Linked DNA regions of Homo sapiens. The protein of the gene in region 5 interacts with the protein of the main gene of each other region in a pairwise test. Each region holds a gene or a part of one and is shown on either strand. Other genes may lie near its edges. The genes, in order: STX11, RCBTB2, BAG4, GRB10, FARS2, TADA2A and APPL1.

What was found.
Region 1: the proteins of FARS2 (region 5) and STX11 interact in binary tests that used the Homo sapiens proteins (3 or more experiments, as listed by UniProt).
Region 2: the proteins of FARS2 (region 5) and RCBTB2 interact in binary tests that used the Homo sapiens proteins (3 or more experiments, as listed by UniProt).
Region 3: the proteins of FARS2 (region 5) and BAG4 interact in binary tests that used the Homo sapiens proteins (3 or more experiments, as listed by UniProt).
Region 4: the proteins of FARS2 (region 5) and GRB10 interact in binary tests that used the Homo sapiens proteins (3 or more experiments, as listed by UniProt).
Region 6: the proteins of FARS2 (region 5) and TADA2A interact in binary tests that used the Homo sapiens proteins (3 or more experiments, as listed by UniProt).
Region 7: the proteins of FARS2 (region 5) and APPL1 interact in binary tests that used the Homo sapiens proteins (3 or more experiments, as listed by UniProt).

Annotation. Positions count from the first base shown.
Region 1 is NC_000006.12:144,157,017-144,160,516, reverse strand, and holds part of STX11 (syntaxin-11), read right to left. Parts: intron 1-3,500. UniProt on the Homo sapiens protein: SNARE that acts to regulate protein transport between late endosomes and the trans-Golgi network.
Region 2 is NC_000013.11:48,495,081-48,498,580, reverse strand, and holds part of RCBTB2 (RCC1 and BTB domain-containing protein 2), read left to right. Parts: intron 1-2,259; coding exon 2,260-2,390; intron 2,391-3,500.
Region 3 is NC_000008.11:38,179,855-38,183,354, reverse strand, and holds part of BAG4 (BAG family molecular chaperone regulator 4), read right to left. Parts: intron 1-3,500. UniProt on the Homo sapiens protein: Inhibits the chaperone activity of HSP70/HSC70 by promoting substrate release. Prevents constitutive TNFRSF1A signaling. Negative regulator of PRKN translocation to damaged mitochondria.
Region 4 is NC_000007.14:50,772,897-50,776,396, reverse strand, and holds part of GRB10 (growth factor receptor-bound protein 10), read left to right. Parts: intron 1-1,236; exon of another isoform or gene 1,237-3,500.
Region 5 is NC_000006.12:5,268,013-5,271,512, reverse strand, and holds part of FARS2 (phenylalanine--tRNA ligase, mitochondrial), read right to left. Parts: intron 1-3,500. UniProt on the Homo sapiens protein: Is responsible for the charging of tRNA(Phe) with phenylalanine in mitochondrial translation.
Region 6 is NC_000017.11:37,476,386-37,479,885, reverse strand, and holds the end of TADA2A (transcriptional adapter 2-alpha), read right to left. Parts: intron 3,090-3,500; coding exon 2,904-3,089; 3' UTR 161-2,903; downstream 1-160. UniProt on the Homo sapiens protein: Component of the ATAC complex, a complex with histone acetyltransferase activity on histones H3 and H4. Required for the function of some acidic activation domains, which activate transcription from a distant site. Binds double-stranded DNA.
Region 7 is NC_000003.12:57,258,729-57,262,228, reverse strand, and holds part of APPL1 (DCC-interacting protein 13-alpha), read right to left. Parts: intron 3,202-3,500; coding exon 3,149-3,201; intron 2,385-3,148; coding exon 2,210-2,384; intron 2,113-2,209; coding exon 2,076-2,112; intron 1,602-2,075; coding exon 1,455-1,601; intron 1-1,454. UniProt on the Homo sapiens protein: Multifunctional adapter protein that binds to various membrane receptors, nuclear factors and signaling proteins to regulate many processes, such as cell proliferation, immune response, endosomal trafficking and cell metabolism.

The DNA.
Region 1 (3,500 bases), about 140 Mb from region 5:
AACGAATCTGGTACTTTTTCAACCCAAGATTTGCCTGTTAACTTATATATTAAACTTAAGGTCCTTTATCTATTGAATATAATAAATGTAAATAAATTGCAGCAGAAGAGCTGCAAAGCTTCAAAAGTTAAAAATCAGGAAGTCTCAAACCTTACCCTAAGCTTACAATTTATGGGGAGAAATAAGGAGGTACAAAAATAATTTTTAAAAAGGCCAGGCACAGTGGCTCACTCCTGTAATCCCAGCACTTTGGTAGGCTGAGGCAGGCGGTTCACCTGAGGTCAGGAGTTCGAGACCAGCCTGGCCAAATATAGTGAAACCCCGTCTCTACTAAAAAAATACAAAAATTAGCTGGGTGTGGTGGTGCACACCTGTAGTCCTAGCTACTTAGGAAGCTGAGGCAGGAGAATCACTTGAACCCGGGAGGCGGAGGTTACTGTGAGCAGAGATTGTGCCATTTCATTCCAGCCTGGGCGACAGAGTCTCTCAAAAATCATAATATTTTTTTAAAAAACAAGAACTGGCCAGAAAAGGAGAAAAAGGACCCAGCATGAGCCACCAAGCTGGGTGGAGGTTGCAAATTGCAACACTGGGGTTGTGGCCTCTTCACCCAGGGCATCAAAAGTGACCTGGAAAGATGAGAAACCTCAGTGGGCATGGACTTCTGGGGCAATGCACTTCACCCACTGTCTCCAACAAGACCCAAAAGCAAATCTGTCAAGCACCCTCCTAGGCCGTAGTAATCAGATCCTTGAGATTAATTTTTAAAAGGCTGTGATGTAAGTTCATGATTTTCAGAGCTTTACATTTATTTTCTTCCACTGTATATTACATATTAAAATATTAACAAAGTAACTTCTAGTAATGGTGCATTGAATGAGACACACAGAAACTTCCCTCTCCGTTCCTTGTTACCTATTTTACCTCATTAAATGAAGGCGTCATTTTCCTGTACTGTCTTTTTCCACATACTGGACGGACACACACACACACACACACAGAGTCAATTTTGAACTAGCTCAACCAAAAGATCTTCCTTTGTTAAAAAGTAGTCTCTTGTAACCAAAGCCAAATCCGTAACTTCTATTTTGATATAACTTATATTTCAGGAAAATGAGACACTTCCTCTGACCTTAGACTAGGCTGGGTTTCCAGCTCTATAATTTCACTTCGCTTTTTCTGGTACTCACCATATTTTATTGGTAGTTGTTTGATAACATATTCAATTGTTACTTATCTTCTCTGCTTGCCCATAAGCTTCATAGGGTCAGGAGCTGTACCTGTTGTGTCTGCACCATTTACTCCAGAGCACCCGGCATATAGGAAAGCCTCGATAAATAGTTGTTGAATAAATACGCTCACCAGAATCGTTATTTTTTTCACTCATTTTTGATGAGGCTAGGTCTCTCATACACAAAAATGAAAAAGACTGTTCTTGCTCTTACAGGCTGTTAGAGAGAATAATGATAATAAATGCCATAATAGAGGGATCTATGGGAATACTTTGAGAAGTCAGTCTGGCCACAGGGCAGGGAAGGTGGTGTCTGAGCTGATCCTAAAAGGTTTAAAAGGAGTTAGCTTGGTAGGGAGAAGGGAAAGGGACCCAGGCACAGACAACTTCAGCAAAGGCATGAAGCCTGGAAAGTGTAAGAAACACAGCAATTTGGTGTTTCAGGAGTAAAAATTGGTAGGCTTAAAAGTGCTTTTCCCTTTGAAGAAAAAATCATTGCCAATGTCAGTGAATCAGATAATATACCATCCTACATTTATGAATGCTTAACATTCTCCTGTAAGTTATCTCTGATCTCATTAGACAATTATTAAAGTTTTAAGAAAGCACCTCAAAGCTTCCTCTGGCATAAGATATCCTAAAACCTTCTTATTCTCCTAGAAATCCATCCTACATTTATGAATGCTTAACATTATCCTGTAAGTTATCTCTGATCTTATTAGACAATTATTAAAGTTTAAAAAAAAGCACCTCAAAGCTTCCTCTGGCATAAGATATCCTGAAACCTTCTTATTCTCCTAGAAAGTTTACTGATTCCTCTAAGTTCACTGATTCCCATCCCCCATCTGCAACTATTCAAAAAATTTGGCATCTCTCACTCTGCTATCTAAGATAGTATAAGGCCAAGCCAGGGACACCACTCTCCCTCTTGCAATCTTGGTCAGAAGCCAGCAAAGGAATTTGGGCTGTGCTGTCTGTTGGCCACATCAAGAATTTAAATGAAAAGCAAGGGATGACTCTCACTATACCAGGCCTGCTGGGACTAAGGCTCCGGTGCTCCTCTGCTGTCCCACGGTTCCCATGACTTCTGGATAATCTGAAAAAATCTCAATAGAGTTGGTCACCACGAAAGGCATAAGAGTTTAGGGTGAAGGTTCTCAAACTATAGCATGTATCAAAATCTTCTGGGGAAAATGTGTTGAAAATGTCAATTCATGGGTTCCACCCCTGGATTCTATTCCAGTGGATCTAGAATGGGGCCCTGGACTTTTATTTCTCTTTTCTTTTTTTTTTGTTTTTCCCCTGTTTTTTTTTTGTACTGAAATATCTTTGGTAATTCTGAAGGTTATAATCTACAGACTACACACTGGACTGGTTTGAGGACTTTCAAGGGCTTGAAAGAGAGAGCGAGAGAGAGAGCGGGGGGAACCCTAATATCACAAAATTGTTCAACATTTAACAATGTTAAAGCCTAGCATTACAGCAAGGACTGGTGTGTGTTATGCTTTTGTTCTGGGTCTGGATAGCCACAGCTGTTTGGGTGGCTGAGTTTAGCCACTCTGGGTGCCAGAGTTTAGCCTTCTTTGTTAAACACCACTACTGCCCTCACCACGGCCTACTCTCCCTGGCTCTTCTGCTCCTAATCTTCTTAGGATTAAGACTACTTTGTCTTCTTGCTCTCTGGTCAACTATTCTAAAATCCTTAAGGGCCTTGGAAAAAAATGACAACTTTCTGGGCTCCACTCTGCAAGGTGATGGTCTGGGCCATCAGACACAAACAAGGCTGTTGCAGAGGAGAATGCTCTCTTGGCTACAAATGTAGTAAATGATGTGGTATCCAGATCCCCTTCTGGACCAAGATCCTCAGTCCCCCAGGTACTAGGAAGGTTGGCTGCTGAAGGCTCCCAGTTCCAGAAATTGCCCTGGACTGAAGGGAGCTGCTGCCTGCATCCAATGATTAGTTGATGTAGGTACAAATGCTGAGCCTCTTGCCTCAGGAGGCAGAACAATTCTGAACAACAATCCCAGCTTCCAAGCTCCTCCCTGTTGAGGCCGCTGTTGTGCATGCCCCACAGTTCAGTCTCTCCCCCTGTGCAATCCCGTTTCCCTCTCTCCTACTGTGTATTGTGCCCAGAGCACTTCCCAATAAAAACCTCCTGTATGGAAATCTCAGAGTCTCAGGGTCTGTTTCCTGGCAACTTGACCTGAGACACTGAACTTGCGCCTTTCAGTCAAGTCCTGACAGCATCATGTAGCAGGCCTCTGCATT
Region 2 (3,500 bases), on a different chromosome or scaffold from region 5:
TTTTGTATTTTTAGTAGAAACGAGGTTTCTCCGTGTTGGTCAGGCTGGTCTTGAACTCCCGACCTCAGGTGATCCGCCCATCTTGGCCTCCCAAAGTGCTGGGATTACAGGCGTGAGCCACTGCGCCCGGCCGCGAGTGGCAGTTTTTTATCGGCCCACCACTAACATTTGTGGGGCTGTAGCCAAGACTCCAAATGGAGACCTATGTTCCATATGTCTAAAAACTTAAAGTTATATGTCAAGCTAGTGAACTTCAGATAAAAATATGTCCAATCCTCCCACCTTGAAAAATGTAATTTCATTAAGAACTGAAAGGACAGGTTTCAATTTTAGTTGACATTTAGAGTTGCAGGACTTCTTGTGCCAGAACCCAATGGCACAGGCAGGACAGACCCCTCCTCCAGCAGAAGGGTGTGTGGGCACCCTAGCTTGCATTCCAAGCTCTATCCACCCCCAACCCAGGTTACCCTTTTGGGCCAGGGGGTCTGCACATTGGTGGTGGGGTCTAAGGGAGGAAATACCCACACATGTGGCCTCAAGGCCAATTATGCAGGCAGTCCCAGGTTCCCAGGTACCCAAAGTGTGGTCTAGAAGTGGGCATGTGGCTCCTTAGCCACCCTGTGCTGAAGGTGTGCGTGGAGGAGGCGCAGAGCTGGGGCTTGGGGCAGAGTCCTCTCTTAGGGCAGTGCAGCTTGCATGTGTGTCTGAAGCTTGGGGCCAAAAACAATGAAGCCATTCACAACTCAAGATTTCAGTGTCCTCCAGTGGGCTATCTGTCTTTCCTCTATAACTTTGATAATATTTGTTATTAAAAAAGCAAGTTTCCAACCAAAGTCTACCACATGTATAAGATTTATTAGCAGATAGACACAAAAACAATTAATATGGTAAAATTGATGAAATCCCTGCTCTTTATACTTCGTACACTCTATTAAGTACCTTGCATGAAAAGTTAGCTTGAGGTGGACATGACAGTGTTCTAGTAGCCGGATTCAGCTAGCCTTTTGATCCTGGCTACCACTCATTTCAGCAATGACAAACTAATTCTGACATTCTTTATGCTAATTACAAATCCTGTAATGAAGATTCAGAAAAACAAATAGGATCTTTCAGATGCTGATTGACTGCTTCAATTAGAGTACTTCCTATCATTCCTTGGGGTAGATTAAAATTAATTTACATATGTCACCTCACCCAGTCTACGTTGAATTACTTGAAAATAGGTGACAGGTAATATAACAGGACTCACCTGCATATATAGATGATATTTAAAACCCTGGGGCTGGGGTTTTGGGAAGTAAGTGAGGAAAGTGTCTGAGGATTTAACCCTGGGGCACTCAAACATTTGGAAGTCAGGAAAAATGATCCAGCCTAGAGAACTGAGGAGCAACTAATTAAAGAGAAGAAAAATGCAAGCAAGTGACAAAGTGTCCTAAGGAGAGCATTATCAACCATATCAAATTCTGTGTAAATGTCGAGTAAGAGGAAACCAGAGAATATTGCACCCTCAAAGCCACTGTGACTGCCACAGGTGTGACCACCAAGGGTGTGACTGCAGTAGTGGTGGGGATGGGGTTCTGCTTGTAATGGCTTGAGGTCAGAATGGGAGGTGGGAAAATGGAGACAGCAGATACAGATAGCTCTGTCTAGGAGTTTTGCTGTAGAGAGGAGCAGTGGGATAGGGTAACAGGAGGAAGACACGTGTCCATGAAAGGGTCTCCCCTCCCCTCCTCTCCCCTCTCCTCCTCTCCCCTCCCCTCCTCTCCCCTCCCCTCCTCTCCCCTCCCCTCTTCTCTTCTCCCCTCCCTTCCCCTCCCCTCCCTCTCCTGTCCTCTCTTCTTTTCTTCTCTTTTGTTTTCTTTTCTTCTTTTCTTTTCTTTCTTTTCACGGCGGGCACTCTTACAGCATGTGTGTGTGCTCCTGGGAGTGGCCCAGGAGAAGCTGACATTGAGATTGCAGGGGAAGGGGTCATTCAAGGCGCACATGCTTTTTTCCTAGGAAAAAAATATTAAAGCTATTTTCCCTGTGCTCCTGTTTTTCAACAGCTAATGATTTGTGTATCATGTTTGCTCAGCTTGGCTGCCATCCTGGGTAGAGCCCCACACTGAAGTGTAAGTGTCAGTCAGCATCAGTCTATGCAGTGCTTCACTGAGGATTATATCTAAAATAGTGTCAAAATCATCTCTGAGTGGCTGAGTGAGCAACTGTAAATCAGGATGCTTGAAATCACTCCCCCTAATAAACACCTCTTTCCGCCAGGACTGCTAGACTTGGCTACATTTTATAGAGAAAATCGTTTGAAAAAGCTCTGCCAACAAACTATCAAGCAAGGCATCTGCGAGGAGAATGCCATCGCTCTGCTCTCGGCTGCGGTGAAGTATGATGCACAGGTAAGGAAAGCTTGCTTCCAGCTGCCGGCCTCCTGGAGAAATGGAACCCAGGTGTCTGCCTCGTACCTTAAACTAAAAGAAAGTCTGGGTAGAGGAAATATTTAATATTTTTTAAAAAATGAAGTAACAAGAGTACTAGACAACGTATAAGCAAGTATTTATATAATGTTGGGATGGACATCAAAGGCAGAAGCCATAAAGGATTTATAGCTCTGATTTAAAAAGATAAGAAACTTTTATCCACTTAAAAATACCATAGAGAAACTTACAAAGTAATGAGACACTGGGAAAAATACTTGCAACATATAATGAAGTCTGTTTACCAGAGTGAAAAACAAAAAGACAATAGGAACAGTTTGGTTGAAAGAAATGGACCAAAGAACAAATGGCTCTATAAATAGACAAAAAACATAAATGAAAACAAGGTATAACTTTTCACCTGTCAAAGCAGGAATATATTTTTAGAGATAATGTATAGGATCAGAATAATGGTGTTCTCCTAAACTGCTGATGAGAGTACAAATTGGTATGGAGAACAATTTGGTATAATATGTATTAAGCACCTTAAATTAAAGACATAATTCTTCAAGGAATTCACTCACAAGTATTTATCTTGAGGAATTAATCATGGATTTGCACAAAGACTTAGCTTCAAAGGTGTTTACTTCAGCAGTTTATAATTTTGAAAAATCAGAAAAAGGTTAGTGTGAATAGTGGAGGCTTGTTTATAAAATGTTAATATCAAGAAATTATGCAGCTATTCAAGATATATCACTAAGTGAAAAACTTATCCTATTTTTATTTTTTGAAAAAGTATAAATAGCTGAATAAAAAACTAAAATTCATTATCTACATAGAAAAAAAGACTGAAAACTATGCTTAGTGGTTATCATTGAATGGTGGGATTGTGGGTGATTTTTATTTTCTTCTCTTTGCTTATTTTTTTTTAACTTTTACAGTGACCATGTATTGTTATGATAATAAAGAAAGGAAAGAAAACCAATCTTAGAACCAAATCTTTAGGAAACAGGCTGTAACATCTTCGAGTCAGTTTCCTTTTGGTATAAGGATATCCTCTCCTTTGGTCAAAGAAAACAGAGACATTTTAGT
Region 3 (3,500 bases), on a different chromosome or scaffold from region 5:
TTAAAGGTGGCCAGGCACAGTGGCTCATGCCTGTAATCCCAGAACTGTGGGAGGCTGAGGCAGGTGGATCACAAGGTCAGGAGATCGAGACCATCCTGGCTAACATGGTGAAACCCCATCTCTACTAAAAATACAAAAAAAAATTAGCCAGGCCTGCTGGCGGACGCCTGTGGTCCCAGCTACTCAGGAGGCTGAAGTGGGAGAATGGCATGAACCCGGGAGGCGGAGCTTGCAGTGAGCCGAGATTTCGCCACTGCACTCCAGCCTGGGCGACAAAGAGAGACTCTGTCTAAAAAAAAAAAAAAAAAAAAAAAAAAAGATGGGTCAGTATGTATAGCTCAGTTGTGGTGGTGGTGGTGGTGGTGGTTATGTAATTGTATGTATTTATCAAAACTCACAGAACTATACCCTAAAGACAGTGAAATTTACTTTTTGTAAATTATGCCATAATTTTTTTAATGAAAAAAAGAATGTCCTCAATGAAGCACTAAAAAGTATAATTTTATTGTCTTAAGGAAAAAAATAATGTCTTTGTCTTTTTTTTCCTCCTTTTGGACAAAATGGGACAAATCTAAAAATATCCCTAGTAACAGTGAAAGTCTGTAGCTCATGGCCCTCCCAACATGACACTAATTCTATGAAATAGCATTTGGTTTCACAGGAAACTGGCTGAAGCTGAACTCTATTCTATAAACTAAGTTACCAATTTTATCATGTGCCTAACTCTTTCCAAACTTTTTATTTGTTGAATGAAATACAAACTAAAACAAAGGTAATAAAATGTTTTCACAAGCCACAATAATGTGAATTAAAGTTCTATGCCAAAGAAAATTTGATTAAAATTATGCAAGATAACTAATTTATTTCCTTTCTTCTGAGAAATAAATAATCCCAGCTGAAGACTGGAGTCAATTCCTTTAAAGTGGATATGTGATTACATTTTCCAAAATGACTTACCAACATTCCCCCAAACTGAAACCCCAGTCCAAGCAAATCTAACAGCAGAGGAATCAGTAGCACTCGTACTACATAAATTCCATTTACAGATTTGCTTATATTTTTCATAAGAATTGGACAAAAATTATTAGTAAAGTACATAAGTTATTTGTATAGCTATATGGTTCATAATCACTAACAAATCACCTTATGCTCCTATACTGACCATCATAATTTTTTAACTTTTCAAACTCATTTGGATCTCTTCCAAATGCTTCTCTGTGTTGTCCCTCTTGCCCCAGCATCTGGTTCAAACATTTACCACATAAATTTTGCAGAGCATCCCATTCTACTTCCCTTACTGTAAGATGACCTAGCTTCCTACTCCACCACGAAAGGAGACCAATAGCTGTCAATGCCCCTCTGCTCCAACTCCAAACTTGTTACTTTTCTCCCTTTAGCTCAAAAGGTTTCTCAACTCTAACTCTTTTCCCTTACTTCCTTTTTTTTTTTTTTTTTTTTTTTTTTTTTTGAGATAGTCTCGCTAGGCAGCCCAGGCTGGAGTTCGTGGCATGATCTCGGTCACTGCGACCACCGCCTCCCTGGTTTGAGCAATTCTCAGACTAGCTGCAATTACAGGCGCCCGCCACCACGCCCGGCTAATTTTTGTTTTTCTTTTTCTGGGACAAGGTCTTGCTCTGTTGCCCAGGCTGGAGTGCAGTGGTGTGATCTCGGCTCACTACAACCTCCATCTCCCAGGTTCAAGTGGTTCTCCTGCCTCAGCCTCCCAAGTAGCTGGGATTACAGGTGTGAGCCACCACACCTGGCTAATTTTTGTATTTTTAGTAGAGACGGGGTTTCACCACGTTGGCCAGGCTGGTCTCAAACTCCTGACCTCAGATGATCTGCCTGCCTCAGCCTCCCAAAGTGCTGGGATTACAGGCGTGAGACACCGCACCCAGCCTAAAGTTTTACTCTAAAAAAACATAGGGAGTGGCCGGGTACCAAAAATACAAAAGTAGTCGGGCATGGTGGCGGGTGCCTGTAATCCCAGCTACTTGGGAGCCTGAGGCAGTAAATCGCTTGAACCTGGGAGGTGGAGGTTGCAGTGAGCCAAGATGGCGCCATTGCGCTCCAGCCTGGGCAAAAAGAGCAAAACTCCGTCTCAAAAAAAAATTTAAAAAAAAAAAGGCTGGGCGCGGTGGCTCACGCCTGTAATCCCAGCCAAGGCGGGCGGATCACGAGGTCAGGAGATCGATACCATCCTGGCTGACACGGTGAAACTCCGTCTCTACTAAAAATACAAAAAAATTGGCCGGGCGTGGTGGCGGGTGCCTGTAATCCCAGCTACTCGGGAGGCTGAGGCAGGAGAAGGGCGTGAACCCAAGAGGCGGAGCTTGCGGTGAGCCGAGATCAGGCCACCGCACTCCAGCCTGGGTAACAGAGTGAAACTCGGTCTCAAAAAAAAAAAAAAAAATAGTGATAGATTTCTAATTTTTTCCCTGCCATACTTAAATGTGTTAATATAGTCAAGTCTGTGTTGTAGTTCAGTACATCATCTAAATATAATCAGTTCTATAGAGCAATGCTTCTGAAATATTAATGTGCATATGAATCACCTGGGGATCTTAATAAATTGCAGCAGTAAGTCTGGAAGAGGAGAGATTTTGCATTTCTATCAACCTCACAAGTGACACCGAGGCTTCTAGTCCATGGACCACACTTTTTGAGTAGCAAGGTTATAAAAGGTTCCTATACTGTTTGTTTTTTTAATTTGACAGATGTATACTATAAAAATGCAAAACATAAAAAAAAGTCAAAATAACAAATCTGGAAAAAACATTGCAACATCTGTGACAACATGCATATCTTTTTTTTTTTTTTTTTTTTTTTTTTGAGACGGAGTCTCGCTTTGCTGCCCAGGCTGGGGTGCAGTGGCATGATCTCGGCTCACTGCAACTTCTGCCTCCCGGGTTCAAATGATCCTCCTGCCTCAGTGCCCCTAGTAGCTGGGATTACAGGCATGCGCCACCATGCCTGGCTAATTTTTGTGTTTTTAGTGGAGGTGGGGTTTCGCCATGTTGACCAGGCTGGTCTCGAACTCCTGACCTCAGGTGATCCACCTGCCTCAGCCTCCCAAAGTGCTGGGTTTACAGGCGTGAGCCACCACGCCCGGCCAACATACATATCTTTGGTATGAGTTTTCTATTGCTGCAGAAAAATTACCATCCTATACTTTTAAAGTTTCAGAATCATCAATCTGAAAGATAGTACAAACTATTAAAATGGTTTACAAATGCCCATTACACATTTCCACCTTTATCTCCAACTACTTCAGCACCATCACCCACCCTGTGGGCACAAATGTACTCAAACCACACCTGACAACCCCTTACACAATGCTAAAATCTTAACTTCTTTAGTCTATCCAACCCTCCCTAACTCTATGCCAGAAAACAGACTTTGGTTTTGATAATACAGCAGGCCCAGCAAAAGTCAGTCATCAGTTTAGAGGTCCTCTCCTCTTTCCCCACTTCAACTGATTTTTGGTCTAATTTGGCCAA
Region 4 (3,500 bases), on a different chromosome or scaffold from region 5:
GTAAAAAAAAAAAAAAATTAGCGGAGTGTGGTGGTGTGCACTTAGCCCCAGCTACTCAAGGGGACTGAAGTGGGAAGATCACTTGAGTCTGGGAGGTCAAGGCTACAGTGAGCCATGATTCTGCTGCTGCGCTCTAGCCTGCGTGACAGAATGAGACCCTGTTTCCAAAAAAGAAAAGGAAGCAGAATTTAAGGATATGGAAAATTTTTAGCTTGCCCAGGTTGTAAAAACATGTTTGGGAGAAAACACTAAGGGTGTGGCCAAGTGACCTTTTGATAAGGAGATTAGTATGGATAGAAGGAAGCCAGATGCTATTCATCAAGATAATGGAAGAATGATCCTGAAGGCATTTCAGAGATTATCAGTGCTGCCCCTCCCATCAGAGGCCCAGAGTACCAAGGCCCAGGGAACAGAACTTATGTCAAAGGAGAGGCCTTGGGCGTCTGCAGGACCTCAGCATTCACTGCCTGGCATCACTTCTCTGCTCTCTGCATTACAGTGCAGCCCTCCTTGGATATCCCAGCTGTAGCTCAAGGGGGCTCAAGTGCAGCTAGTTCCATTGCTGTGGAAGGCACAGGGCATAAGCCTAGGTGGCATCCACATGGCGCTAAGTCTGCAAGTATGCAGAGTGCAAGAGCTGTGGATGCATGGCTACCTTCACCTAGATTTGAAAGGATGCCTCAGAGAGTCTTGGGCTCAGACAGAGAATTGCTGCAGGATAGGTCTGCTGCAGAGACTCCCTGCTAGGATAATGCCTAATAGAGCCATGGGGCAGGAGTGCCAAAAAGAGCCCCCACTAGGGCAATGTCCAGCAGAGTCTTGAGGCTGGGGGCACACTAGCGAGCTCCCACAAGGACAATGCCTAATGGAGCTGTGGGGGTGGGGCTGCCCTCGAGAGCCTGTAACTGTAGAGTTACCCGTGTGTAGTGCCAGCCTGGGAGAGCTGCAGGTACCCAACTGCAACCTGTGAGAGCTGCTATGAGGGCTGTGCCCAGCAGTTGGCTGCAGGGCTGCCCAGGTCCTTGGGAACCCAACTCCTGCCCCATTGTGTCTGGAAGGCAGGACATGGAACCAAAGATTTATTCTCCAGCCTTACCATTGATTTAATGTTTGTCCTGTTTGGTTTTGGATTTGGTTGGGAAATGTTACCTCTTTTTTCTTTCCTATTTCTCCCTTTTGTAATGGGAATGTCTGTTCTTTGTCTGTTCCACTGTTTTTTTTTGTTTTTTTTTTTTGGAGACAGGATCTCACTGTGTCATTCAGGCTGGAGTACAGTGGTGTGATCTCGGCTCACTGCAACCTCTGCCTCCTGGGCTCAAGCTATCTTCCCACTTCAGCCTGCTGAGTAGCTGGGACTACAGGCGTGTGCCATCACGCCCAGCTAGTTTTTTTTTTTGTTTTGTTTTGTTTTTGGTATTAGAGATGGGGTTTTGCCATGTTGCCCAGGCTGGTCTCGACCTCCTGGGCTCAAGAAGTCCGGCCGCCTCAACCTCCGACAGTGCTGAGATTACAGGAGTGAGCCACTGCTGAAGTCTGAAGTACTTTGCCTCAGGTTGAAACACATCTTTGAGTCTCACATGTCTGATTTAGATGAAATTTTAGACTTCAGACTTTTGAATTGATCCTGGCCTGAGATAAGACATTGGGGCTATTGGGATGGAATGAATGTATTTTGTATGTGAGAAAGACATAAATTTGGGGGACTTGGGGTGGAATGCCATGGTTTGAATGTTTGTGTCTCCTTATGGCCTTATCACTTCCCCAACGCAACTCTATTAAGAGGTATGGCTTTTGGGAAGTGATAAGGTCATGAGGGCTCCAGTCCCATGAATGGATTCTTGCCCCCATCAAAGGGCTGGAGAGAACTAGCTAGGATCCCCTTTTTGCACTTCTGCATTCTGCCATGTGAGGGCACAGCAAGAAGGCCCTCACCAGACACCAAGTGCTGGCATCTTGATCTTGAACTTCCCAGCTTCTAGAACTGTGAGAAATAGATTTTGTTCTTTATAAGTTATCCAGTCTCAAGTATTTTGTTATAACTGCAGAAATGAATAAACACACACACATACATTGTATATAGTGTTCAATTAATATATTCACAGCTATGTGCAACCGCCACCATAGTCAATTTTAGAACAAAAAGAGACCCTGCACCCTTTAGCTATCATACCCCCACTCCCTGCCATCCCATTGCTCCCCCTGCTTTCCCAACCCTAAGGAACTCTACTTTCTGTCTGCATAGATTTCCCTGTCCAGGACATTTCATGTGAATAGAATCGTCTGTGGTTTTTGTGAGTGTCTTCTTTCACTTAGCATAATGTTTTCATGGTTAATCTATGTTGTAGCATGCATTAGTACTTCATTCCTTTTTATGGCTGAATAATATTCCCTTGTATGTGTAGTCCCAGCTGCTTGGGAGGTTGAGGCAGGAGAATGGCATGAACCCGGGAGGCGGAGCTTGCAGTGAGCTGAGATCACGCCACTGCACTCCAGCCTGGGTGATAGAGCGAGACTTCGTCTCAAAATAAATAAATAAATAAACAAACAAATAAATTCCCTTGTATGTATATACTACTTTTTGTTTATTCAACTGTTGATGGACATTTATGTTTCTACCTTTTGGGTATTGTGAATAATGCTTCTGTAAACATTGGTGTATAACTATCTTTGAGTACTTGCTTTCCATGTTTTTGTATATATGTCTAGATTATAATTGCTTCATTATATGGTAATTCTATGCTTAGCTTTTTGAGGAACTGCCAAACTGTTTTCTAGAGCAGCTGCACCATTTTACATTCCCAATAATAATGCACAAGGGTTTCAGTTTCTCCACATTCTTGCCAACACTTGGCATTTTTCGTTTCCTGTCCTCTCCTCTCCTCTCCTCTCCCCTCCCCTCCCCTCCCCTCCCCTGCCTTCCCCTCCCCTGCCTTCCCCTCCCCTCCCTTCCCCTTTCTCCCCTTCCCCTTCCCTTCCCCGTCCCCTTCCCCTTCCCCTTCCCTTCCCCTTCCCTTCCCATTCCGCTTCCTCTTCCCTTGCCTTTCTTCCCCTTCCCCTTCCCCTTTCTTTCCTTATAGCTGTCCTAATAGGTGTTACATCGTTTGGCTGTGTCCCAAATCTCATCTTGAATTGTAGCTCCCATAATTTCCACATGCTATGGGAGGGACCTGGTGGGAGGTAATTGAATCACGGGGTTGGGTCTTTCCCATGCTATTCTAGTGATAGTGAATAAGTCTCATGAGATCTGATGGTTTTATAAAGGGGAGTTTCTCTGCACAAGTTCTCTTCTCTTGTCTGCCACCATGTGAGACATGCCTTTCACCTTCTGTCATGATTTTGAGGCCTCCTCAGCCACGTGGAAATATGAGTCCATTAAACTTCTTTCTTTTGTAAATTGCCCAGTTCTCTGATATGTCTTTATCAGCAGCATGAAAACGGACTAATACAAGGCATCAGATGATTGCTCATTGTGGTTTTGATTTGCTTTTTGTTACTCAGTT
Region 5 (3,500 bases):
AATCAAATAAAAAAATATAACTCTGGCAAGATTGCTCTAGTGAACTTTGTTCCTTTTACAAAAAATAATTCCCCTTTATCTCTAGGAGCTAGGCAACTGGTTCAAGACCAAAAGAATCCTATCTTCTCCCTGGTCACAGTTATTGGTTCAGAAATGGATGAGGACATGACACAAGGAGGGCCAGTGACATGAACGGAGAGGACTGCTGAGCACTCTTGGTCCAGAAGCTCTCTCACTCCTCTAAGGTTTTGGAAACAAGCGCCCCCAAACTGTTGATGGTTTCCCATAACCGAGAGAGAGGACTCTGGCCAGACGATAAAATTTACGTTAGAGAAGACAAAGTAGAGAAAAGCACAAAATTGAATCTTTGGCAACATCACTCAAACCAATCAACCCTAAAGCCCATCTGGCTTCTGAACCCTCAAGACACAGGAGACAATAAAGCCACTAGGTTTGTTTAAAACAATTTGACTTCAGTTACTTGCAATGGCAGTCACTCTAAGCTGAAGAGCAATTCACCATACTAAGGGAGCTTAACAGAGGAAGATGTACTCAAGTTAGAGAAGGTAGCTTTGAGTAAGCATCTCTTAAACTGAGATCAGAAGAATAATTAGCAAGGGAAGGAAGGGCACTCCAGGCAGCTGGATCAGCATTTGCAAAGGTCCCCAGGGTAGAGGGGAAAGAGGTGAGTACTAAAGAATGAAAAGCAGCAAGCGAAAAATAAAAAGGTATGACATGGGACTGGAGAAGTGGGTAAGCGCCATAGTCGTCAGGGTCTCATAGGCTGTGTTAAGGAATTAGACTTCATCCTAAAAGTGCTGCAGGTTTTTGGAGAGAAGGTGATATAAAAATTACTGTCTATAGTGTGGTGACATTAATTCATATATATCTAAGGAACATACCTGACCACCAGTACTATAATGAACATTTCATTTTCAAATAGCTTTCAAGACAACAGAAAAATTTCAGCAAACACTGTAACTTGACACACGTGGAATCTCTTCTACAAAGTTAACAGAAGGGCATCCAGACAGCTTGACAGCTCTAGCGAACCACACTTATGTCCTGAAACGTATTAATCTGGGATAGTTTACTTGGAAATTATTTGAAGACCTGGGCTCTACAAATGAAAGCTGACTGTAATTATCATCCAGCCCAGCTCTCACAGTACGCAGAAGCCAAGGGTGTAAGTGGGATTCCTAACAGGGCTTAATGTTATGAATGCCCAGGCACATGTGCTTGTCTCAAAGTGCTCCAAGACTTGAAATAAATAACAATGTGCTTATCTCAGAACGTCAAGAAACAGGAAAGAAAGTATGCTGCCTGCTAAGCTTTTTCTATTTCATGACTGCTTCATTTTACTTTCCCTTTGCACTGCAGAATTCCAGGAATTGATTTAAAAAAAGATAATTCTCCCAAAAAACTCATCTTCATTAACTGAAACTAACTGTTTTACTCTCTGCCAATATTACTGTAATCCATTTCACAGAAGCCAGGCTTTTATAACTCTTAAATATTGTTAGTTAACTCAAACTCACAATTACACATACAGATTACAAGTTTGCCAGGCTGAAGTGCTTCAATTGTGCTCAGAAAATAAATGTTTACATTAAAACGTTATAAAATATTAAATCATGTAATTCACTATAATACCAAAGAAATCATGAATTCTCTGTATATCTTCTATTGTTAATAACAGTCTACAGTATACTATCAACGATATGTATCGACCCATCCTCTGAGAGATCAGTTAACATCACAGATCTCAGTATTGCACATCTTAAGACACTGACCTAGTATTTTTCCAGTGATTAGCAAAATGTAGGCTGTTTTTTGTAAACAGACTCAACACTGCAAATTCTAAATGTTTTCTGTAAACAACCTACTGACCTGAACAAACAAGAGATGGCGGCTAATACACTCATTCGAAGAAGTCAATCAGAACTTCAAATATGTCACTAGAAAAATTACTAAAATGAGATACTGCTAAACAGCAATGAAAGGACTCTTCTTTTCTCTTTTTTTTTTTTTGGTTATTTTCATTTTTTTTTTTATTATACTTTAAGTTCTAGGGTACATGTGCACAAGGTGCAGGTTTGTTACATATGTACACATGTGCCATGCTGGCATTAGGTATATCTCCTAATGCTATCCCTCCCCCCTCCCCCAACCCCACCACAGGCCCCGGTGTGCGATGTTCCCCATCCTGTGTCCAAGTGTTCTCGTTGTTCAATTCCCACCTATGAGTGAGAACATGCGGTGTTTGGTTTTCTGTCCTTGCGATAGTTTGCTCAGAATGATGGTTTCCAGCTTCATCCATGTCCCTACAAAGGGCATGAACTCATCCGTTTTTATGGCTGCATAGTATTCCATGGTGTATATGTGCCACATTTTCTTAATCCAGTCTATCATTGATGGACATTTGGGTTGGTTCCAAGTCTTTGCTATTGTGAACAGTGCTGCAATAAACACATGTGTGCATGTGTCTTTACAGAGCATAATTTATAATCCTTTGGGTATATACCCAGTAATGAGATTGCCGGGTGAAATGGTATTTCTAGTTCTAATACCTAGGAATCCAACCTACAAGGGATGTGAAGGACCTCTTCAAGGAGAACTACAAACCACTGCTCAATGAAATAAAAGAGGACACAAACAAATGGAAGAACATTCCATGCTCATGGATAGGAAGAATCAATATCGTGAAAATGGCCATACTGCCCAAGGTAATTTATAGATTCAGTGCCATCCCCATCAAGCTACCAATGACTTTCTTCACAGAATTGGAAAAAACTACTTTAAAGTTCATATGACCCAAAAAAGAGCCCGCATTGCCAAGTCAATCCTAAGCAAAAAGAACAAAGCTAGAGGCATCACGCTACCTGACTTCAAACTATACTACCAGGCTACAATAACCAAAACAGCATGGTACTGTTACCAAAACAGAGATATAGATCAACGGAACAGAACAGAGCCCTCAGAAATAATACCACACATCTACAACCATCTGATCTTTAACAAACCTGACAAAAATAAGAAATGGGGAAAGGATTCCCTATTTAATAAATGGTGCTGGGAAAACTGGCTAGCCATATGTAGAAGCTGAAACTGGATCCCTTCCTTACACCTTATACAAAAATTAATGTGAGATGGATTAAAGACTTAAATGTTAGACCTAAAACCATAAAAACCCTAGAAGAAAACCTAGGCAATACCATTCAGGACATAGGCATGGGCAAGGACTTCGTGTCTAAAACACCAAAAGCAATGGCAACAAAAGCCAAAATTGACAAATGGGATCTAATTAAACTAAAGAGCTTCTGCACAGCAAAAGAAACTACCATCAGAGTGAACAGGCAACCTACAGAATGGGAGAAAATTTTTGCAATCTATCCATCTGACAAAGGGCTAATATCCAGAATCTACAAAGAACTTAAACAAATTTACAAGAAAAAAATCAAACAACCCCATCAAAAAGTGGGCGAAGGATATGAACAGAC
Region 6 (3,500 bases), on a different chromosome or scaffold from region 5:
CTTAACTGAGTTCAGATTTTTAAAAGCGGGGGAAGTGAAGACGGTTAACAATAAAAGGAAAGAAACTGGGACCCAGGAAAAGATAAACTGAATATTTAGTATTAATTGGTATCGCAAGAGACAGAGTCTTGGTCTTTGAGCACAGAGAAGAGTCATTACATGGAAAGAGATTTGTTCTTTATTTCCCACCACTTAGAGAGAAAAATATGCATAAAACTCCAGCAGAAACTTTTAACGTTAAATTGCAATAAAAATTTCAGTAAACAGGTTTTATTCATGTCATTAAGTTTCAGGGTAAACTCTCTCTTCTGAGACAATCTGGAGAGACCTCTATCAGTGTAGTTGGTTTATGGCCAACCCTGTCTAGAAGCAAAGAGGAAGGATGCAATGCTACGTATCTTTGCAAAGTTCGGTATACCAAAGAAATAATAATCCTACTTTCAAAAATCCAGTCATTTAAAACTTCAGTCTTATTTTTCTATTACTATTTTCAACCATGCCATTTTCCTCATGAAATCTGATTTGCCATCAGCTTTTCAGAGTTCAACTGTTTCCAAGGTTTCTGTCAGACTGTCCTACCATCCTCCCACTCCTAACTACCCAGCTGCCCCTTGTGTTCTAGCCAAATAAATCTCTTGGCACCATTGTCCTTACACCCACTGCTGCCTCCACATCATTCTCCACCCCCTGTGTGTGGAATTGTCTCCCACTTCCATCTGCCATTTTTCTCTCTCTTCTCTATCATATAATTGCCCCAAAAGCCCACCTCTCCCAGGAAGCCTTCCTTAATCAAGGTTAAGGACTCTTCAGACTACAACAGACGTCACCTAACACTGATGGCTAATGCATCCCAACTTTTCAGAACAGGAGTTTCCTTTCAGGGATAAGAGGCAATCACTTCACAACCAACTAGGGGTGATGGTAGTGGTAAAATGTTTTCTACGAGATATGATTTTACAAGGAAAACAGGTCATTTCCACGTCATTCTTTTTAAAAAATCGAAGTCCTCTATTTGAATTCCCTCAGGTCCTTAGAGTGTCTTTTTCATTTCTTATCCCTTAGATGAATCCCTTCCCAGCTGCATGCATATTTACAACAGTCAAAAGTTTGAGCAGATGCTTCCAACAAAGCACACAGTATTTTAATTAGATATTTGAATGTAGAAGGAATTAAACAGTCAACTATTCGATGTGATTTGTGTCGATTCTGACGAAGTTATTTCTATATACAACTTTGTTTCTAACAGAAACAAGATAACCATAAGTTTGGCTTCTTATTCTGCAGAAACGTTTGAGGACCAAGTTTTACATGTGGTGGGGCTACTTACCCTCATATCTAGTGAGTCCCATATATAAAGCTGCTTTACTTCTGTTTTAAAAGCAGCTTTTATTGCAGGCTAGCCTTTCACCATTGAGAAATAGGGTTCAAGTCACAATCCAAGCAAAGCTGAGGTTTGTTGCATCATCTCCATCCTCAGGGGCTTGGTATCCTGGGAAACCCAGGGCAAAAACAGGGTGAGTTCAGGACACATGTGACAGCAGACAGTGCAGCGTGATGGGGCAGGCATCCAACACCTTAAGTGTGTTTCAGTTACCAGAATATTTGACACACCCACAAATTAAATAGCAAAACATTTTAATTAATTCTAAAAATAACAGAGACATGTTATATCCGGTGCCACCTCCTCAAAAGACTACTGCAGATTAGACAGGCAGACTGCAAAGTACAAAGCCAGACATTAAAGGTTTTTTTTTGTTTTTTTTTTTTTGAGACAGAGTCTCACTTTGTTGCCCAGGCTGGAGCACAGTGGCGTGATCTCAGCTCGCTGCAACCTCTGCCTCCTGTGTTCAAGCAATTCTCCTGCCTCAGCCTCCTGAGTAGCTGGGATTACAGGCGTGTGCCACCACACTCAGCTAATTTTTGTATTTTTAGTAGAGACTGTTTCACCATGTTGGTCAGGCTGGTCTTGAACTCCTGACTTCGTGATCCGCCCACCTTAGCCTCCCAAAGTGCTGGGATTACAGGTGAGCCACCTTGCCCGGCCGAAGTTAAAGATGCAGTTTGGGATAAGACCATCATAAGGATATTTTCTTCCCCTTTACTCATAAAAGTTGTCAGCTTAGGCCGGGCGCGATGGCTCACGCCTGTAATCCTAGTACTTTGGGAGGCTGAGGCGGGCAGATCACCTGAGGTCAGGAGTTTGTGACCAGCCTGGCCAACATGACAAAACCCTGTCTCTACTAAAAATACAAAATTAGCCAGGTGTGGTGGTGGACACCTGTAGTCCCAGCTATTCGGGAGGCTGAGGCAGGAGAATCACTTGAACCTGGGAGGCAGAGGTTGTAGTGAGCTGAGATCTTGCCATCACACTCCAGCCTGGAGGACAAGAGCAAACTCTGTCTCAAAAAAAAAAAAAAAAAGTTGTCAGCTTAAAAAATCCTTCAACGAGAGCTTTCTTATGCTCTAAAACCTTTCTCTTTATTTTAAATCTGTCTGCAGTGTTTGAAGGCAAGACAGATAATCAGCAAACTTACCTCGCAATATAAGGATCTGAGCTGGACTCCTGGGATTACAGACTGTGGTTTAGTTCCATTTCTACCAGCACTGTGATGTGAGGTACTATGGTTCTTTTAGTTACAAGAGGTGTTAGGAATGAATGCCCACTCACATTTAATAATAGCTTATGTAGCACACAACTCTGCAGCATAATACCAACAACAGGAGTGTTTTAAAGCAGGATGGAGAAGAAAGTAGACAATACAACTTAAGGTTTCCTTTGTCCTTTCCCCTGTTTTCACCATGAGAATTCAGCTGAAAAACAACTCTCCAGAATGCCCACCCATATTGTCCTTTGACCCACCACATTCCAAACTTCTGACTTCTGATCCCAAGCTCTTGGAGCCTTAGCCTTTAGTGATGTATCCTTCTCTGATGAGGAAATCATAGATTTTCCGGGTTTTGTTCACATCTATCTTGATGAGTGCTCTTGCCTGCGCCAGTCTTAAGCCTCCTTGCTTGTTACATTCGTTCAATAGAGCAGATTTGTATTCTAAATAGGCTCCAGGGACCAACCTCACCATCTGACAGAGCTGCAAGACACGGCAAATTTAATAAACATTAACATCTGTCATTTTTGTAATTTAATCCAGCAGGTATAGCAAAAAATTTTTTAAAGTGACATCAACCTCCAACTATTTATAGGAGCTGATGGGTGGCTGGACTACATTCCATTTAGTCTCTTCCTCTCTGGAGAGAACACTCCCTAAGGACACACACCCAGGAAGAGAAAGCCAGGGTGTGATACTAGAAGAGCCTTTAGCACATGCCAGCTGGCTCAGGGGCCTGGGTTTGTTAGGGATTTACAACTATGTGCTCCTGAGGAGCAGCCTGGCTCTTTCAGGAGTCAAACACTAAATGCCCAGGTACAGTCCCAGCACCAATGGTCAGGGAAGAGCCATGGGGCACAGTGGGGGCAGAATGCACAGACACTTGGATTCTCA
Region 7 (3,500 bases), on a different chromosome or scaffold from region 5:
AGAAATAACAGAGTAAACAGACAACCTGTTGAATGGGAGAAATTATTTGCAAACTGTTCATCCAACTGGGGACTAATATCCAGAATATACAACGAACTCAACAGGGAAAAAATCAAATAATCCCACTTAAAAGTATGCAGAGGATATGAATATGCATTTCTTAAAGGACACAAAAACAGCCAACAGGTATATGAAAAGATGCTCGACATTACTAATCATTAGAGAAATGCAAATCAAAATGACAATGAGCCATTCTTACCCTAGTCAGAATGGCTATCACTAAAAAGACAAAAAATAGCAGATGTTGGTGAAATGCAGAAAAAAGGGGAACTCATACACTGTTGGTGGGAACATAAACTAGTACAACCACTATGGAAAACAGTATGGAGATCTCTCAAAAAACTAAAAATAGACCGGGTATGGTGGCTCACGCCTGTAATCCCAGCACTTTGGGAGGCTGAGGCAGGCAGATCACGAGGTCAGGAGATCAAGACTATCCTGGCTAACACGGTGAAACCCCGTCTCTACTAAAAATACAAAAAATTAGCCGGGCATGGTGGCAGGCACCTGTAATCCCAGCTACTCGGGAGGCTGAGGCAGGAGAATGGCGTGAACCCAGGAGGCAGAGGTTGCAGTGAGCCAAGATCGCACCACTGCATTCCAGCCTGGGCGACAGAGTGAAACTCCGTCTCAAAAACAACAACAACAACAAAAACTAAAAATAGAACTACCATTCGATCCAACAATCCCACTACTGGGTATCTACCCAAAATTAAAGAAATCTGTATCAAAAGGATACCTGCACTCACATGTTTACTGTAGTACTATTCACAATAGCAAAGATATTAAGTCAATCTAAATGTTCATTAACAGATAAATGAATAAAGAAAATGTGGTACATATACACAATGGAGTACTATTCAGCCATAAAAAGAATGAAATCATGTCATTCACAACAACGTGGATGGAACTAGAAGTCATTATCTTACGTGAAATAAGCCAGGCACAAAAAGACAAATATCACATGTTCTCACTTGTATGTGGGAGCCAAAAAATTGATCACGTGGAGGCAGAGTGTGGAATGACAGACAACAGAGACTGGGAAGGCTGAGTGATGAGGAAAGGGGGAGGATGAAGAAAAGCTGATTAAAGGGTACAACCATAAATTACGATAGAAAGAATATATTTAATATCTGACAGCAGAGTAGGGTGACTATACTTCACAAAAATGTATTGTACTTGGATGATGGACACCCTAAATACCCTGACTTGCTTACTGTACATTCTATACATGTAACAAAATTCACATGTGCCTCATAAATTTGTATAAATTGTAAAGAATTCAATCAGTAATTACTAACTAATTTAATTTGTAAGAATTTAATTATTATTAAATCTTAGTAAGAATCAATTAGTAAGTGGTTATGACAGAGATATTCTGAAAAGCCATGTACCTTTTCCCCCTCATTGTTTGACTCAAATATATAGCAGACTGATGACAGATTACTTTCACTTCTCCCGCTTGATGTCCGAAGAACAAATCCAAAAAGGCGCTTATTTTCCTGGTGTGTAGCATACAAAACTACACAAGGTAATGGAAACTGCCACAGAAAACATCAGAAGCAAACATGAGATCTTACAAGTCATTACAGCAGCACTTGTGACAAACTCATATGCTAAGTTCTAAAAATATAAATATTTTAATATATTAAAGCCAATTATTTTAACAGACTTGTAATGCAGAAACAAGTAATGTCATATTTGGTTTGAATTAACAAGCAGAAAAAGGTTGTTGAATATTACATTTGTTTTATTAGTCATTAACACATTTTACAAAGTCAAAAAGAACTGTGTTAAAAAAATTACAAAAAGAATTGTGTTAATTCTTTTAAGTTACATAAAATGTTCAATGACAACTTTTTGGAGATGGCCATAGACTTAACTACAACAGCCAAAGACCAATCATAGCTGATACTATCACACTTGAATATACAGGATCAGGATTATTATCAAGTTGTAAGATGTGTATATATACAAAGGGACCTAAAACAAAGCTTAAATCATGTGGAACTCACCGTGAGCCTTGTAACTTGTGTCTGTGGATCAATTAACCTAAAATAATAATTTAAAAATTGGAAAACAAATTTTAATTAGGCTGAAATCATGTAAATGTTTTTTCTACAGTTTTTTAAGGGAGGGTTTTACTTACTTTAAACAGTCACAAGTGACTAATAAATGCGATTCTGTCATACGAAAGATGTTATGGATGGCCCGGGCAGCTAAGATTTGGCGCATAGTTTCATAAACAACATCTGGATGGTCATCTGATTTCACCTCCATTGAACCAAGGAATCGGACAATAAATAACTGATGAAGAATAGAATCTATAATAGAACAAGGTGTATTACATATTTTTTTTTTACTGTATAAATTTACATTTTATTTTTTTCGCCATATTTCTTTTCCAAAAGAATAAAATACACTGCCTCCTTTTAGGTTTTCTAGTGAAAAATTCAACAGCCTAAGGGAGACATTTCAAAATAACTCCTAACTACAGTATTCCAAGTTATAGGAAAATTAGGGTTTCAAATTCAAATAGCTAAAAGTAATGCTTCAACAACTGGCAGTTCTGAGGCCAGGCGTGGTGGTTCACACCTGTAATCCTAGCACTTTGGGAGGCTAAGGCAGGAGGATCCCTTGAGCCCAGGAGTTCGAGACCAGCCTAGGCAACATAGGGAGCCCTGTCTCAACACACACACACACACACAAACACACAACAACTGGTGGTTCTTACAGCATTTCTGTAAGTTTAGAATTCAAATAAATAGTTAGTGGCGGAAAAACAAAATTTATGCTCCAGTACCAGAAGAGAAACATCAGCTGTTAGGAAAAGCTTGAAAGGTATCTTAGGCACTGAATTTGACTATAAAGTCAAAAGTATGAGAGTCTATCGTTTTGTATGAATCACAACATCTTAAGTCAGATTAAGTTCTGTTGCTTCAAGTGTACTATAAGTAAGTAGAGGAAATTCTGAAGTAAAGATAGCATTAAAACTGAGCTTAGTAGCAGAGCAAATATAAACAATAAATTATTCACAGTTTGCTGAGAAGCAGTTCTAAAATATATGAATGCTGCACATCTGTCTTACCTTCAGTTTCAGATTTTGTACTTCCTCCAGATTCTCCAAATGGATTTGTACGCCTAAAAAGTTTAGAAGAAAATATGAACACATGGTCAGTTACCATGAGCCACATAGAAGAAATCTAATTATTAAAACCACAGTTAACATTTAAAAAAAAAAAGCTCTAAAATGCCCCATCCTATTAAGAAACACTATTGATCACTAAATTACTATGATGAAGGCCTCTGCCCTCACACACTAACTGATCAATGTTGGTGCACTTTAGAAGACACAGATGAATTGGAAGTTTAGACATACACAACAAAAAATCAACATAATAAACCATGTTGCAAAAGTTCTTGAATTTAAATAAGCTAGC